Homo sapiens: one gene and its partners. The protein of the gene in region 1 purifies or fractionates together with the protein of each later gene. This does not show direct contact. Each region holds a gene or a part of one and is shown in the gene's direction. Other genes may lie near its edges. The genes, in order: SCGB1D1, CD109 and PLXNA3.

Region 1 (3,748 bases):
ATGTAGGCACCATTTTTAACCTACTTTTACAAACGAGAAAACTGTGTTTACATAAACTAATTTTCAGAGGGTTCAATAGCCCATAGACATGGATCTGAACCCTCCTAGCCATGGGCTTTGCCACTGGACCTTCCACTCCTTAGGGTTGGAGGCAGAGGTGGCATCAGGGGCTTCCCCACCATTTTGGGTGATGGAAGTGAGAGGCATTGTCGCCCTCAGCTGGGACTCAGCCAGACCTGCCAAGGTGTCTCTGATGACACAGACCATAAGGTCCGCTTCCTTCATAAAGGTCTTTCTGGGTGGTTCTCAGTACTGCTGCCCATCAGACCCACCAGAGCAGTTTAAACAGAAGAGGACCTCGCCCTAGAACTACTGAATCAAAATCCCCAGAAAGGGAAGCAGCCTGCGGGGAGTCAGTATAGTTTAAGAGCCCCAAGTGATTTGATTGCAGAGCAGAGAATGGAAAGCTCTGGCCTGGGCTGTGACTGTTCTCAAATGTGTGTTCACTTAAGAGCCAAATTTCTGGTGATTTCCTACTCACCAAATGATGGCACTGCAGTGGAAGGGCAGAAGGGTGTCTATTGCTTTTGCTGGGGATGGCCTTCGCTTTCCATCAACAATGAGATGACCCAGGCAGCAGAGCTGGGTTAGAAGTGGAAAACTTGAGCCCAGAGGTTAGAGGGAAGTGACCACCCACCCTGTTCATCCATCTCTTCCTTTCCATTATCGTCCCTGCCTAGAAGCGAAGACCAGTATTTCTGATGCCTGTTTGCCTCCAGACACCCCAGCAGCTCCTTGGGTAAAAAAAGTTGGGCAATTTAATCATCCCATCAGCCCTATGAGGAGATATGGGTGGCTAGAGGTCACTGGAGGCTTGCTTTTAGTAGACAGAAAATTTGAACCTGTGCTATGTTGACAACTCCACCCATAAATAAAGACACAGATCTTGGAGTGAGACAGAGTAGAGGACAGGGGGAGTGGTTGTTTTCCCCAAGGAAATCCTCCAAAGGTGGGGTGTATGCAGCTATGTTTTAGGTACCTATGTGGTGAAGATGGTGGGGATGGAAGGGGCTGAGTGGGAGGATAGGTCTGGTTCAGACTTGATCTATGTGCAGCTGAAACACGTGTGGCTGATTGTCAGACATGCAGTGGAGGTCAAAGTGGGGTCTCTTCTGTGCCTGCTCTCCTATAACCAAACCACAGCCCCTAGCTTCCTGCACCCCCGGTTTCTGTCCTCCTGAAATGAGAACTCACATTTGCCCTTGCACTGACATAAAGAACAGAGAGATAATCCTCAAAAGCCCAAAAGCAAACTGAGGTTCCAGGGAACATTGCCAGAGGCACCTGGACACTCACCTGGAGCACAGAGCAGAGTTTCTGCAGGGCTGCCCTCCCGTGCTCCGCCCCACTCAGGATGCAGGGAGGTGTGGGGATGTGACACTGATGGATGGCAGCAGCCCTGGCTAGGAAGGGAGGGCTGGAAGCCAGGCCTCATCACCTGCCAGATGCCCATGTGGGCAGGACCAGCCAGGCTCCCTAGGTACAAATAGCCCTGGGCTCCACGGCTCCACAGGCTCCCGGGGCTGAGTCTAAATCACTCATCATTGGTTAAAGCCGAGCTCACAGCAGAATAAGCCACCATGAGGCTGTCGGTGTGTCTCCTGCTGCTCACGCTGGCCCTTTGCTGCTACCGGGGTGAGTACATCAGTCATGAGTCCAGCACCAGCCCTTGGGACACACCCTTCTCTGAGCACGAGGTCACCTATTAAGGTTAAGGTTGGGGTCTGGAACAAACCAAAATTCCAAACCTTATCCTGTGCTTGTTGAAGGAACTGCTCATAAAGCTCGGGCCTCATTTCATCAAATCCCCAGTACCTAGGAAGTTTTGCAGAAAATCAATGCAGGCGAACGTTAGGAATTCTGCCTGAGCTTCACTCTTGGATGGGATCTGTGTCAGATGATGTAATGTGAGGTCTGGGGTGACTCTGGGCTCAGCCACTTCTCAGCCCTTTCACCGTGGGCAAGATGCTCACCCTCCCCGCGCCTCCTCCTATCTCTGGTGCTTAGAGCTTCTTCCGGGAGTGGCAATGGGAATGGAGTGGGATTATTGTGCCAAGGGTCTAGCTGTGGATGTGAAGCCAATCACTGTACTGTCAGACATTCTCGTCCCCAGACCTTTAGGTGCCAATTGAGCTCACAGCTTCTTACATTGTAAATTCAGACTCATAAAATGTTACATCTCGAAGGATCCTTGGAGAACTCTCAGTCCAAGAAGAGATGGTGCTTTCTGATTCTCTCAATAAGAAGCCTGCAAATGAATTCTTAGAATAAGCAGCACTCAATATATCTTCTAGGGGTCCTACCGTAATGGTGGTAGAAATACTACAATGGTTAGCCTCAGAACTTCTATTTTTCTAAAATTAATTCTGGCTGATTTTTCCCCAGTTCATTTGGGTACTTTCCTTTCCCCTGTCAGGACCGATCCAGACTCTGATTTTTCTCTTTCCTCTTCTTTTCTGAACCTCTCCCTGTTTCCCTGTGACACCCCGATCCTACCCTCTCCAAATTCTCCCCACAGTTTGAAGTCGGGTAGTCAGGGGTCATGTTGAGCATGGTGGGGCGCTTTCTGGATGCATGGTGTTTGCAAAAGACTTAGGTGAATGGAGATTCCAGACCAAGCAAAATGATTACTCCAGGTCTTTCCAAAATTCCCAGTGGGAGCAGGAATGAGCCTCAGTTCCCTCCTCTCATCCTCTCCAAATATTCTAGATGCTGCTGCAGAATATGGGCCAAGTACAATTTCCTGTATAAGCTTCTAATGTGTGTTAAAACTGATTCACATTATTTTATTTTGTTTTAATTTGTTTACCTTTTAGCTCTGTCTGTATTGAATCACATAAGCCTAAATTCTACAACTTGTTCTCAAAACATCACCTTCAACATTTCAATAATTTTAACTTCTTCTGTTCCAGATTTACTCATTTCTCTAATTTCTGATAGGATTCTGACTCTACCATTCCACTTCAAAATTTGATTACTCAAAGCCTCCTCTTCACCAATGTCCAAGACTAATAAAGTGTCACTTAACTGGCATAGAAAAGTGATTATTTTCAAATCTAGAAAAGAGAACGTTGGCCATCCATCCAGAGAAGCTTTGGAAAGTAATGAGTGTGCTTTAAAAAAAAAACAAAGACTGAATGAGTGATCAGGAAGTTGGTTCTCCAGTTCTAGCTCTACCCTTTGCTGTGTGACCTCAAGGAAGTCACAACCTCCTGGGTCTGACATTGTCATTGGCATAGTTATTGAATAGAAGCCTAAAACCCTGGGGTTCCTGTCTGGTCTGACATCAGGGAGGCATGGGAGAAACACTGATTTCCTTACACAAATTATATTTTTATTCTTTTGCTCCAGCAAATGCAGTGGTCTGCCAAGCTCTTGGTTCTGAAATCACAGGCTTCTTATTAGCTGGAAAACCTGTGTTCAAGTTCCAACTTGCCAAATTTAAGGCACCTCTGGAAGCTGTTGCAGCCAAGATGGAAGTGAAGAAATGCGTGGATACGATGGCCTATGAGAAAAGAGTGCTAATTACAAAAACATTGGTAATTTCTGTCTCTTTCATGTGTCCAGGCTTCTGGTCAGCGGCACAGTGTGAAGTGAGGTCAGCTTGCTTGCTGCTCTGTGAGGGACACAGGTGGTGGGGCACCTGCCTTACTGGTCACCGCTTGAGAAGGTCACCTGGGACCACAGG
Region 2 (3,648 bases), on another chromosome or scaffold:
ACTCCTGACCTCGTGATCCACCCGCCTCGGCCTCCCAAAGTGCTGGGATTACAGGCGTGAGCCACCGCTCCCAGCCCAATGTAATTTTTTAAAATGTTAGATTGCTAATTGCTAATGTATGCTATTGAAAGTAGTATTTTTATTGTGTTCTGACAATATCAAGTTGATACATAAAAAGACTATGTTTATAATTATTCAGGTATACATATGGGAAGCCAGTGAAAGGAGACGTAACGCTTACATTTTTACCTTTATCCTTTTGGGGAAAGAAGAAAAATATTACAAAAACATTTAAGGTAACTTTTGCAGACACTTTATAACTTGTGATGGGTAAAATATGTGTATTTTTCTAGAAATAAGATTTAGTACTGAATTAACAAAAAGTTAAGTGTAAGAAAATCAAGAGCTTTCCAGCATTGAACAAATGAGAATTTATGCAATTATAGCGATTAAAATGGTACCAGAGCTATCATATTGTTGTGACTTAGTTTGAGTTTTATTTCTAAAATTTGAATTGCTAAAATGGTAAATAATACTGAACTTTTAAACAAAACAGATAAATGGATCTGCAAACTTCTCTTTTAATGATGAAGAGATGAAAAATGTAATGGATTCTTCAAATGGACTTTCTGAATACCTGGATCTATCTTCCCCTGGACCAGTAGAAATTTTAACCACAGTGACAGAATCAGTTACAGGTTTGTAGACTTTAAAGTGGAGGTAAAACTATTCATGTGACACTGCTTTATCATCTTTCTTATTATAACTGGCACTTTCATTTGGGAGCATCATTGACTTTCTAAAGATGCTATTTAATGTTGAAATTGTTATGACTGTTAGTCTAAGTTGCAGGATGATTTTATAAGGGGGACCTTATTTTCTATGAAAGTCACTACTTCAACCACATGTGATAGCTCTTCTTAATTTTTTTTTCCATTTCTACTCTTTCCCCCTGAAAACTACATGGAAAGGCTTACATTTTCAGCTGGTAACCTTCTTCTTTTTAAAATCACTGAAATCTCAGCTGTTCCTAGACAGTTTTCACTTTTAATAAGAAAATAAAGTTGAGTTTCTTGGACCTTTCTGTTACTATTTCAACAACTTTAGCCAATCCCTGAAAGAGCAAAAGACTATTCTTTCATTGGCCTTAATTTGCTGCTGTTGTACATGTCACTGCGGTAGAATGGCAGCAATGGTGCTTAGAGGGGATCCATAGAGAACATAATAGAACTGTGTGGTGCTTGTAGTGTCAAAGTCAATATGGGAATGAGGCTTATGTGCCCTGATATTTTTAACCCTTTTTGCAATAGGTTAGATGGAGAGATTTGGTGGATAGAAGCTTTGGGTGAAACATTACTTTTGCTTTCTAAATTGTGCAATTTCCAAAAAAGGTATTTCAAGAAATGTAAGCACTAATGTGTTCTTCAAGCAACATGATTACATCATTGAGTTTTTTGATTATACTACTGTCTTGAAGCCATCTCTCAACTTCACAGCCACTGTAAGTTGGTATATTTATTTCCAGTCCATAGCAGTAAGTTCAGCTTAATGAAATAGAATGGGAAATAATATTTTCAATGCTTTTCTAAAAATTTAAGCCAAAAAGTATATAACTTTGTCTCTTTAGACATGTGGGGCATGTAGATTTGTTTCCAAATGACCTTTGTCTATTTTTTCTAAAAAAGTAGTTTTCAACAACAGTAAAAATATTTTTTGAAAATGTATTTTTTTTTACAAGCAATTTAAGTTAGATGTGGATTGCTACACTGAAGCTTTTATTAATTAATTGAAATAATTACATGGTAGTCAAAAATTTCAATTTCAATTTGGTTTTTATAATGATTAATTGTAGTTCTAACAAAGATGTTACATTAAAAAATTATCAACAAATCTCATTTTTTGGAGATAATGTTGAATTAACACATTAATTGTGTGAATGTTGACAATGAGCAAGGCATGGTGTTGGGCAGGGCTATAGAGCCAAGAAGGGCTCAGTCCCTACCCTCAGGTTCACAGTTTTTGTGATGGTGACAGGAAAATATATACTTAACTATAACTCATGGCAGATTAAGATTAGTGTTACAAATTAATTTCTGTAGGGATTTAAAGCAGGGGTTGCCAAACTTTTTCTGCAAAGGGCTAGAGAGTAAATATTTTCAGCTTTGTGGCCATGTGGTCTTTGTCACAGCTACTCAGCCCTGCCATTGTAGTGTGAAAGCAGCCATAGCCAATTTATAAATAAGTGAGAGTGGAATGTGTTCCAGTAAAACTTTGTTTACAAACATACTGGATTGGCCTATCAGCTTGCAGTAGTTGGCTGATCTCTGATTTAAAGAAAGGAGGAGTCAGGCCTGGCGTGGTGGCTCATGCCTGTAATCCCAGCACTTTGGGAGGCCGAGGCAGGCGGATCACCTGAGGTTAGGAGTTCGAGACCAGCCTGACCAACATGGAGAAACCCCATCTCCACTAAAAACACAAAAAATTAGGCGGGCGTGGTGGCACATGCCTGTAATTCCAACTACTCGGGAGGCTGAGGCAGAAGAATCGCTTGAACCCGGGAGGCGGAGGTTGTGGTGAGTGGAGATTGCGCCATTGCACTCCAGCCTGGGCAACAAAAGTGGAACTCCATTTCAAAAAAAAAAAAAAAAACAACTAAAACGACAAAGAAAGAATGGAGGGGTCACTTGTTGAATGGGTCGGTAGACGTTTCAGGTAGTTTCTGATTTCAATGATCTTAATTTAGGCAGTTTGAAAAGGTCAGTTTAAAAAATTGAGGCTGCAAATGGTAATTTCTGAATGAGTAGAGTGAAACCATGGGCGTTCAGAGGGGGAGAGTTGGCTGTGGGATAGGCATGGGGGTTACTATGGGATGCTTTATGGAAGAGGATGGTCTAAACTGTTTTTTAAAAGATTAGTTGTGTTTTAAATGCTTGGGCATGGGAGTGGGAGGTGGGGAGCAAGATAAGAAGTGAGACAAGAAGGAGAGGTCTGGCTGGCAATTTCGGGGTGCACTCAGGTAGTGTTTGAGGGAGACTGCTCAGGCTGTGTGCAGGAGGATGGCTGTAGCCCAGGAGTGAGGGGATGGGCAGCCTTGTGGTGGTAGCTGTGGGAGTGGAGAGGATGGAAGAGAGAAGCATAGGACTTTGGTGTTCATTGGATTTGGGGGGTGGGGAGAGGGAGGGAAAATTCAGAAATGTAAAGTCTTGCAAAATCCTGATGTTAGCGAAAATAGGAAAATGACATGGTTGCTCATTTTAGATATGTGAATTCAAGGTGTCCAGGATATCCAAGTAGAAATTTCCTGCAGGTAACTGGAGGTGTTGGGCATGAACTCCAGAGAAGGGCAAGGATGGGAATTTTGGCTTTAGGGTACAATCACAGAGATGACAAGCTAAGCAATAGGATTGCTGAGACCTTGGAGGAAGGGAGAAGAACAGATGTCCAAAATTCCCACATTTAGGGAGAGGAAAGAGGAACTGAAAAGGACACTGAGAGGATGCAGAAAGAGAGGTAGGAAGTGAAGGGGGTTATTTTGGAGCCGCGGAAGTTAAGGGAATCCATAATATTAACAAGGGAGTAATCAGTGATGTTGGATGCCTCCTAGAGAGAGGCCACTGAATCTGGATATTATAGTGCTACCAATAATTT
Region 3 (3,648 bases), on another chromosome or scaffold:
CCTTGTACCCTGCCTTTGACATCTACTACATCTACGGCTTCGTCAGCGCCTCCTTCGTGTACTTCCTGACGCTGCAGCTGGACACCCAGCAGACGCTGTTGGACACAGCGGGCGAGAAATTTTTCACGTCCAAGATCGTGCGCATGTGCGCGGGAGACTCAGAGTTCTACTCATACGTGGAATTCCCCATCGGCTGCTCCTGGCGCGGCGTGGAGTACCGCTTGGTGCAGAGCGCCCACCTGGCCAAGCCTGGCCTGCTGCTGGCCCAGGCCCTGGGCGTGCCGGCTGATGAGGACGTCCTCTTCACCATCTTCTCTCAGGGCCAGAAGAACCGGGCCAGCCCACCCCGGCAGACCATCCTCTGCCTCTTCACCCTCAGCAACATCAATGCCCACATCCGGCGCCGCATCCAGTCCTGCTATCGTGGGGAGGGCACTCTGGCTCTGCCCTGGCTGCTGAACAAGGAGCTGCCCTGCATCAACACCGTGAGCCCCTCATCACCCCACACTGGTCCTCTGCCCTGTCCCAGGTCTACCATGCCCAGCGTGGGCTCACGGCCAGTCATCCTGTCCCAGGCTTTGCCATGGCCCTGGGAGTGGCACCTTTGCCCTCCCACCTGTTTCTCCCTCCCAGGGGTCCCTGCCCTCTCCTTGCCTCTCTCTGGGCTGCCCAGTGCCCCACTTCTGCTTCCTTCCGTTCCCAGCTCGTTCCTCCTTGCTCCGTCTCCCGGTTGCCCCTTGTCTTGAGCCAACAAGAGTCTTGTGGGCCCAGGCTTCGCTCCTCGCTCCCTGCTGTCCCTCCTCTGTCTCCCTCCGCAGCCACCAATTTCCTGGAGCACCCTAGGGCGAGCAGTCAGTCCTGGCTGGAGGGGACCGGGTTCTAGATCCCGCTCTCTTCTGGGACACAGGAACTGCCGGCCTCCATCTTGCGCCTGGGAGCTTTGACTCTCACGGGTTCCTCCTCTGTTTCACCAGCCCATGCAGATCAACGGCAACTTCTGTGGGCTGGTGTTGAACCAGCCTCTGGGAGGCCTGCATGTGATCGAGGGGCTGCCCCTGCTGGCCGACAGCACCGACGGCATGGCCAGCGTGGCCGCCTACACCTACCGCCAGCACTCTGTGGTCTTCATTGGCACGCGCAGCGGCAGCTTGAAGAAGGTGGCCCCCAGAGCCCTGGGCATGTGGGGGTGGGGACAGTCTCAGATATGGGACAAGGCTGGTGGGAACACACGGGAGAGCTCTGAGGACAGGACAGGAGAGGACACGGCTGGTGCAGGGAGGGAGATTTCCCTGGCTGGGTCCCAGGCGCCTGGCCCTGCTCCTCGGGTCGCCCCTTGGCCGCCCACCCTCACCATTGCCAGTTCCCACTGTGGACTGAATTGCCAGCTTCGTATGGCTCTGGGGACAGAGAACAGACCTATTGTGGAGTCTCCCTGCCACGAGAGCAGGCCTGGGGCTGAGCCAGCATTGCTGGGTCCTCTGTTGAATGAACAAGGGAGCAAATGCCTTGCCCCTCAAGCCTCCCTATGCCTGGGACAGACCCACTTGCCCCTGCCCTCTCCTTGGCTCACTACTTCCCATCCTTCCCCTCCTACCCATGGGCCCGGGGGCTGAAGCTGCTTCCATTGGGGATCTGGGGGTAGCTTGGCATGAAGGGGGAGATGAACTTCTGGGCACTCAGGTACGTGTTGAATAGGTAGGAGTCGGGGGACTGCAGTGCTCTCATCCTGCTTGCCTCGTAGATGCAGTGCCATCCCCCAGGAGGGCAAGTGTTGGTCTGGGGGCGCAGGGAAGGGTTTGTGGAGAAGGATGATGAACTCTCCTGGCCCACCTGCTCTGTTCCTGGGACCCTCTTTTCCTTTGTAGCAGCTTTGTTGAACGCGTACTATCCAATTCACCCATTTTAAAGTGCACAGTTCAGTGGGTTTCTGTGGATCTGCAGAGTGGCACAACCATCGCCACTACCTCATTCTCCTAATCAATGCCATCTTCTAGCTCTTCCCCTCCCCTGCATCCCCTGACCTTGGGCAACACGAATCACTCCGTCCTTCTGTTTGCTGAGGGCATTTTCTGGCGTCTGCACCCTCCTTTTTTTGGCCTCCGGGCTGTGGGTGTGAGTGCTGAACCCCACCAGGTCCTGACGTCAGCTCAGCCACAACCTCCAAAGTCTTTGGCTGGAGAAGACAGTGTCCCAGGTGCAGGAGGCTGTGGTGGCATCAGGCTGGTCTTGTGGCTCAGGTGCGGGTCGATGGCTTCCAGGATGCCCACCTGTATGAGACAGTCCCCGTGGTGGATGGCAGCCCCATCCTCCGAGACCTGCTCTTCAGCCCGGACCACCGGCACATCTATCTCCTGAGTGAGAAGCAGGTGGGCCTGTGGTGGGTGGCGGTGGGTGGTGGGGCGGGGGTGGGCTGGGTGCTGATGTGGCTGTCCCCAGGTGAGCCAGCTCCCGGTGGAGACCTGTGAGCAGTACCAGAGCTGCGCAGCCTGCCTGGGCTCCGGGGACCCGCACTGTGGTTGGTGTGTGCTGCGACACAGGTGAGGGCGGGGACCCCTGCTCGGGGAGTTGGAGGGCCCCACTGGCCAGGGGGAGCCAGCCACACCCAGCCGTGCCCTTGCGGCCTCCCCCCGCCCTCCTCCACTTTCTCCAGCTAATGAGTGGAACCTCCACCCCGAGTGACGTCCCTCGGGCCCCAGGGGACGCGGCCAAGGCTCGCTGTTGCCTGGCACTGTGAGCTGGACAGGCCTGGGCCCTCCCGGGGCAGTGGCGGGACCGGCTCTGGCCCGACCCCGTGCAGGTGCTGCCGCGAAGGGGCCTGTCTGGGCGCCTCTGCCCCACACGGCTTTGCTGAGGAGCTGAGCAAGTGTGTCCAGGTGCGGGTCCGGCCCAACAATGTGTCAGTGACGTCACCTGGGGTGCAGGTGAGCAGCTTGGGGGTGCCCGGCTGGGTGTGCACATGTGTGCTGGGAGTCCGCCCTGCCCTGAGCCCTCTGCTTCCCCCAGCTGACCGTCACCCTGCACAACGTGCCAGACCTCAGTGCGGGCGTGAGCTGCGCCTTCGAGGCGGCGGCGGAGAACGAGGCGGTCCTGCTGCCCTCCGGTGAACTGCTCTGCCCCTCACCCTCCCTCCAGGAGCTCCGAGCTCTTACCAGGGGGCATGGTCAGTGGGTTGGGGCTGCCCAGGATGGGGCAGAGTGGGGCCTCTCCCTACCCCCAGCGAGTTCACGGCCACCCCGGGACTGCTGCAGGGGCCACCCGCACTGTGCGGCTGCAGCTTCTCTCCAAGGAGACAGGCGTGAGGTTTGCCGGTGCTGACTTTGTCTTCTACAACTGCAGCGTCCTCCAGTCGTGAGTACCTGGCCAGCACCCGTCCCTACCCCTGGGGATAGAGGGGACCTCTGGGACAGGCGACACCTTCAGGGCAGCTGTTTCTGGGGCATCAGGGGCTAACTGTCAGGCCCTGATAGCCCCTGACATCCCCACATCTCTCTGTCCCCTGATATGGCTGCCTTCTTCCTTCAGTTCCCGATGTGTCCTATTGGGGAGCAGTGAGGGGCAGTGCAGCCTCCTCTGTTATTTCTGAAGCCACTTCCCCCCCAGGTGCATGTCCTGTGTTGGCAGCCCTTACCCCTGCCACTGGTGTAAGTA

Evidence for each region.
Region 2: the proteins of SCGB1D1 (region 1) and CD109 purify together in Homo sapiens (co-immunoprecipitation; 3 studies listed by BioGRID and IntAct, with this or other methods). This does not show direct contact.
Region 3: the proteins of SCGB1D1 (region 1) and PLXNA3 purify together in Homo sapiens (co-immunoprecipitation; 3 studies listed by BioGRID and IntAct, with this or other methods). This does not show direct contact.

The regions. Positions count from the first base shown.
Region 1 is NC_000011.10:62,188,645-62,192,392, forward strand, and holds the start of SCGB1D1 (secretoglobin family 1D member 1 precursor), read left to right. Parts: upstream 1-1,571; 5' UTR 1,572-1,640; coding exon 1,641-1,695; intron 1,696-3,411; coding exon 3,412-3,599; intron 3,600-3,748. UniProt on the Homo sapiens protein: May bind androgens and other steroids, may also bind estramustine, a chemotherapeutic agent used for prostate cancer. May be under transcriptional regulation of steroid hormones.
Region 2 is NC_000006.12:73,762,185-73,765,832, forward strand, and holds part of CD109 (CD109 antigen isoform 1 preproprotein), read left to right. Parts: intron 1-199; coding exon 200-296; intron 297-556; coding exon 557-698; intron 699-1,391; coding exon 1,392-1,501; intron 1,502-3,648. UniProt on the Homo sapiens protein: Modulates negatively TGFB1 signaling in keratinocytes.
Region 3 is NC_000023.11:154,461,154-154,464,801, forward strand, and holds part of PLXNA3 (plexin-A3 precursor), read left to right. Parts: coding exon 1-485; intron 486-974; coding exon 975-1,157; intron 1,158-2,237; coding exon 2,238-2,366; intron 2,367-2,436; coding exon 2,437-2,537; intron 2,538-2,797; coding exon 2,798-2,921; intron 2,922-3,003; coding exon 3,004-3,160; intron 3,161-3,248; coding exon 3,249-3,348; intron 3,349-3,600; coding exon 3,601-3,648. UniProt on the Homo sapiens protein: Coreceptor for SEMA3A and SEMA3F. Necessary for signaling by class 3 semaphorins and subsequent remodeling of the cytoskeleton. Plays a role in axon guidance in the developing nervous system.